Linked DNA regions of Homo sapiens: region 2 is linked to region 1. Evidence: fine-mapped expression QTL. A gene starts in region 1. The other region holds a variant in brackets. All regions are shown on one strand. Distances are between the middles of the regions.

What was found. PIP is the estimated chance that this variant, and not a neighbour inherited with it, causes the effect.
Region 2: its variant is fine-mapped to the expression of FAM32A in whole blood (TOPMed, PIP above 0.99).

Annotation. Positions count from the first base shown.
Region 1 is chr19:16,183,585-16,186,493 of GRCh38, reverse strand. FAM32A (family with sequence similarity 32 member A) reads right to left here and starts at 1,084. Exons shown (of 4, transcript NM_014077.4): 1 at 978-1,084; 2 at 729-870. The coding sequence starts at 1,051. RefSeq lists enhancers at 1,490-1,539, 1,442-2,077.
Region 2 is chr19:16,214,505-16,217,413 of GRCh38, reverse strand. All of the region lies in intron 5 of AP1M1 (adaptor related protein complex 1 subunit mu 1), which reads right to left. Among named protein-coding and RNA genes, the nearest start is that of AP1M1, 18 kb to the right of the region's middle. The variant T/C (reference allele first, on the strand shown) is at 1,334.

The DNA.
Region 1 (2,909 bases):
AAGTTCGAGATCAGCCTGGCCAACATGGTGAAACCGCATCTCTACGAAAAATACCAAAATTAGCCAGGTGTGGTGGCGGGCGCCTGCAATCCCAGCTACTCGGGAGGCTGAGGCAGGAGAATTGCTTGAACCCCGGAGGCAGAGGCTGCAGTGCTCTGACCCCGCCAAAAATAACTAATTTTTTAAAAAATACAGCATGTTTGAATCTGCCAAACAAAGTTGTCTTGGAAACAAACTTTGTGGTGACTTCGAGCGGCGAGCATGGCCATTTAATATCAAGAGCTGGCATCCACTGAACATGTATGCACTGCTTTTTACTTTCATGACTTCCTCTCAAGTTCCCAACCCTCTTAGAATAAGTTACTACCCTGACTCGTACAGAAGAGGAAACTTGAGGCACGGAAATAAGAAAGTCACTGGCCTAGTGTCGCAGGGCAAATAAGCCACAGCACTGGAATCCAAACCCGGGTCTCCAGCTCTGGCCTCCTTTCAACGCCAGTTCTAGCTCTCCCCTCTGCTGCCCACTCGGGCCAGCGGGGTCTTCTCATCCTTGGAGCTCCCCCGGCAGAGGGCGACTCTTCTCTCACTCACGTACAGCATCCTCTCCCCGTAATTAAGGTCTCCTCTGACCGCTCCCCTGCCCTCGGAGCGTCCCAGCCCTGACCCCAATTTCCAGTCTCCCGGCGCCGGGTGTTCCCGCCTCCCCGCCGCCTTCTGCTTCTGCTCACCCGCTTCTCCTGCATTTTCTCGAAGGCCGCCTGGGCCGGGGTCCGCTTGTCCAGGCCGCGCCGCTTCTCCTCCTCGTTCTTTTTGCTCGTTCCCATTGCTTCCAGGAGTTTCGCTTTGTCTTTGTCCTTCTTTTTCTTCTTCCTGGAAAAAGACATGAGGAGGCGGCGGGTCGGAGGATCAGGGCCAGGGGTCCCGAGAAAAGGTCTAAGGGGGATGAAGACGGAATCCCGCGGGCCCTCGGGCCTCACCGCTTGGTCACTCCCAGCTCTGCGACGCCTTTCAGCTTCAGGGGTCCCTTTTGGACCTGCTCGTAGGCCTCCATGACACTCTCCAGTGCTTCGGTAGCTGGAGTGCCACACTTCCTGTTTGCAAACACTATTTCCGCCCGAATGGCCGCCTCGCTTCTCTTTGATTGGCTGAGCTACAAGGTGAGCATGCGCTCTTGGTTCTGGACCCGGGCCACACTTCCGGGTAGTGGGCGGGACAGAGAGCCAAGCGAATGAGTGCCCTTCGATTCCTATCTGCTGCCACACTTCCGAATTTGGCGCCCACTTCCGGTCTCCCATTCTTCACACAGGGTGCTGGAAACCCAACCCCTTTTTGAGCGTTTTGCGCACTTTTGGGTGACCTGTTCTCTCTCCTTGATTTTTTTTTCTTTTTTAGAGACACGATCTTGGTCTGTCACCTAGGCTGGAGTGGAGTGGCGCGATCGTGGCTCACTGCAGCCTTGAACCCTTGGGCTCAAGAGATCCTCCCGCCTCAGCCTCCCCAGTAGCAGACTGCAGACGGGCGCCACTGAGCGCGGCTAATATTTTCATTTAAATTTTTTTGTCGAGATGGGGTCTCGCTGTGTTGTCCAGGCTGGTCTCGAACTCGTGGGTTCAAGTGATCCTCCTGCTTCGGCCTTCCAAAGCGCAGGGATCACAGGCCTGAGCCACGCCCCACCACCCCCGTTCTCTTTTATTGCCATATTTTGAGCGTTCACTGGATAGCTGAACCTAATTTTGTAAACCTAATCAGTATTCATTAATTTTTCAGCTTTAGGTAAATGACAATATCATGTGACAAGGTTGGTGGTATGTTAAAACAATTAAAAATCTATTTTATGCCGGGCGCGGTGGCTCACGCCTGTAATCCCAGCACTTTGGGAAAACGAGGTGGGCGGATCACGAGGTCAGGAGATGGAGACCATTCTGGCTAACACGGTGAAACCCCGTCTCTACTAAAAATACAAAAAATTACCTGGGCGTGGTGGCGGGCGCCTGTAGTCTCAGCTACTCGGGAGGCTGAGGCAGGAGAATCGCTTGAACCCGGGAGGCGGAGGTTGCAGTGAGCTGAAATCACACCACTGCACTCCAGCCTGGGCGACAGAGAGAGACTCCATCTCAAAAAAAAAGTACATATATATTTAAATCAGCACTTTGGGAGACCAAGGTAGGCGGTTCACGTGAGGTCAGGTGTTGGAAACCAGCGTGGCCAACATGGCGAAACCCTGTATCTACTAAAACAAAACAAAACAAAACACAAAAAGCAAAAATTAGCTGGGCATAGTAGCCTGCGCTTGTAGTCTCAGCTACTTGGTAGGCTGAGGCAGGAGAAGCGCTTGAACCCGGGAGTCGGAGGTTGCAGTGAGCCAAAATCGCACCACTGCACTCCAGCCTGGTCAACAGACAAAGACTCCGTCTCAAAAAAAAAAAAAAAAAAAAAAAATCAATAGAGATAGGGTATTGCTGTGTTGTCCAGGTTGGTCTCAAACTCCTGTCCTCAAGCAGTCCTCCTGAAGCATTAGAATTACAGGCGTGAGCCACCACCCCTGGCCCTTTCTTTCTTTCTTTTCATCCTTTCAGTACTGTGCGGTTTTCTTACATACGATGTGTACATGCATATATCTTTTTTTTTTTTTTTGAGACAGAGTCTCGCTCTGTTGCCCAGGCTGGAATGCAGTGGCACGATTTTGGCTCACTGCAACTTCCACCTCCCAGGTTCAAGAGATTCTCCTGCTTCAGCCTCCTGAGTAGCTGGGATTACAGGCGCCCACCACCATGCCCCGCTAATTTTTGTATTTTTAGTAGAGATAGGGTTTTGCCATGTTGTCCAGGCTGGTTTCGAACTCCTGAACTCAGGTGATCCGCCTGCCTCAGCCTCCCAAAGTGCTGGGATTACAGGCGTGAGCCACCGTG
Region 2 (2,909 bases), 31 kb before region 1:
CTGGTGGTGTGTGCGTGGGTGGACCTAGCCCACCCTTCCCCAACAGCATGCCTGTGTGTGCACCCTGCTGTGCCACTGTTGCCAGCATAAGTGCACCCCAGCCCCTCATTCTCCTCTCCCACCACCGTTGTTGTCAGAGTGTTGGCAGCATAGAGCCCGCCAGCCCCACCCCTCCCAGTTCCCCACCTATGCTGGGCCTCCCACAGGAAACTAGGCAGAGAAAACAGAGGACCTACCCCTAGCCCTGAGCAGCCACTGCTGCCAGTGTGAACATGCACAAAGGGCACACACAGTCCTGCACCCACCAGTGCCCCCATGCTAACCCCATCATCGGCACCAATGAACAGGTGCACAGTTGCCAGCGTGGCCCCTGCCCCCACCCCAGCCATACTGCCACTACTGCTGCTGCTACAAATGCCCTCCCAGAGGCTGGCTCCCTGACATCCACTAGCACTCTGTCACAGCCGATAAGCGTGCACCCCGCTGTGCTGCCGCTGGCACATGCAAACAAGAACAGATCCTGCTGCCACTACCCTATGAAGTGCTTTGCCTGGCACCACCCATTGGAGTGTTGTGACCAGCTGTCTGGGAGCAGCTTGGCCCCTCTAGCAGAGCAGGTTCTTAACCTGAAGGAGCCAGAGATCAAAGCCAGGGCTGGATACCAGTCCTCCAGAGTTAGAGCATGCAGTTCAGGAGTCCTAAGCTGAGCCTTGGTCCCCTAAAATCTTCCAATAATGAAGCCATCCAACTGAACCCACCTTATACACAATCAAACCCCCAGGGTCATCAAATAGGATAAAGGAAAAAGAAACCCATTCAAAGGACAGCAACTTCAAAGACTAAAGGAATATCAGCCCACAAAAATGAGAAAGAACGAGCACAAGGACTCTTGACAACTCAAATAACCAGAGTGTCCTCTTTCCTCCAAACTGCAGTAGTTCTCCAGCAAGAGTTCTTTTTTTTTTTTTTGAGACGGAGTTTCGCTCTGTCGCCCAGGCTGGAGGGCAGTGGTGCAATCTCGGCTCACTGCAAGCTCCGCCTCCTGGGTTCACGCCATTCTCCTGCCTCAGCCTCCCAAGTAGCTGGGACTACAGGCGCCCGCCACCACACCCGGCTAATTTTTTGTATTTTTAGTAGAGATGGGGTTTCACTGTGTTCACCAGGATGGTCTCAATCTCCTGACCTTGTGATCCGCCCACCTTGGCCTCCCAAAGCAAGAGTTCTTAACTAGGCTGAGATGGCTGAAATGACAGAAATAGACTTCAGAATATGGATAGGAACAAAGATCATTGAGATTAGGAACATTGAAACCCAATCTAAGGAGGCTAAGAAT[T/C]ATAATAAAACAATATATGAGCTGGCAGACAAAACAGCCAGGATAGAAAATGATGTAACTGACCTGATACAGCTGAAAAACACAGTATAAGAATTTAATAATGTAATCACAAGTATTAACAGTAGTACAGACCAAGCTGAGGAAAGAATCTCAGAGCTTGAAGACTGGCTTTCTGAAATAAGACAGTCAGATGAGAATAGAGAAAAAATAACGAAAAGGAATGAACAAAGCCTCCAAGAAATATGGGATTAAAAAAGAGAGCAAATCTACAACTCATTGGTGTCCCTGAAAGAGATGGGGAAAATGGAAGCAACTTGGAAAACGTATTTCAGGATACTATCCATGAGAACTTCCCCAGTCTAGCTAGAGAGGCCAATATTCAAAATCAGGGAATGCAGAGAACCCCTGCAAAATACTTCACAAGATCATCCCCAAAACACATAATCATCAGATTGTCCAGGGTCAAAATGAAAGAAGCTAGAGAGACATAGCAGGTCACCTACAAAGGGAAGCCCATCAGACTAGCAGTGGGCCTCTCAGCAGAAACCCTACAAGCCAGAAGAGATTGGAGGCCTATATTAAACATTCTTTTTTTTTTTTTTTTTTTTTTTTTTTTTGAGATGGAATCTCATTCTGTGGCCCAGGCTGGAGTGCAGTGGTGGGATCTCAGCAGGTCACTGCAACCTCCGCCTCCCAGGTTCAAGCAATTCTCCTGCCTCAGCCTCCCAAGCAGCTGGGACTACAGGCATGCACCACCACGTGCTGCTAATTTTTATATTTTCAGTAGAGACCAGGTTTCACCATGTTGGCCAGGCTGGTCTTGAATTCCTGACCTCAGGTGATCCCCTCCCCTCCCCCCTCCCCCCTCTCCCCCCCCCCCGCCCCCGCCTTAGCCTCCCAAAGTGCTGGGATTACAGGTGTAAGCCACCACTCCTGGCCAATATATTAAACATTTTTAAAGAAATTCCAATCCAGAATTTCACATCTGGCCAACCTAAGCTTCATCAGCAAAGGAGAAATGAGATCGTTTTCAACTTGGGTGTGGTGGCTCAACCTGTAATCCCAGCACTTTAGGAGGCCGAGGTGGGTGGAGTGCCTGAATCCAGGAGTCTGAGACTAGCCTGGGAAACATGGCAAAACCCCATCTCTACCAAAAACATATACATTAGCCGGGTGTGGTGGTACCTGCCTATAGTCCCAGCCAATTGGTAGGCTGAGGCCAGAGAATAGCTTGTGCCAGGGAGGTAGAGGTTGCAGTGAGCCATGATCATGCCACTGCACTCCAGCCTGAGCAACAGAATGAGACCCTGTCTCAAAAAAAAAGAAGAATAAAAAAGATCCTTTCAGACAAGCAAATGCTGAGGGAATTTGTTTACCAGCAGACCTGCTGTACAAGAGCTCCTGAAAGAAGTACTAAATATGAAAAGAAGGCCGGGTGTGGTGGCTCATGCCTGTAATCCCAGCACTTTGGGAGGCTGAGGCAGGCGAATCACCTGAGGTGTGGAGTTCGACACCAGTCTGGCCAACATGGTGTAACTCCATATCTACTAAAAATACAAAAATTAGCCGGTCATGG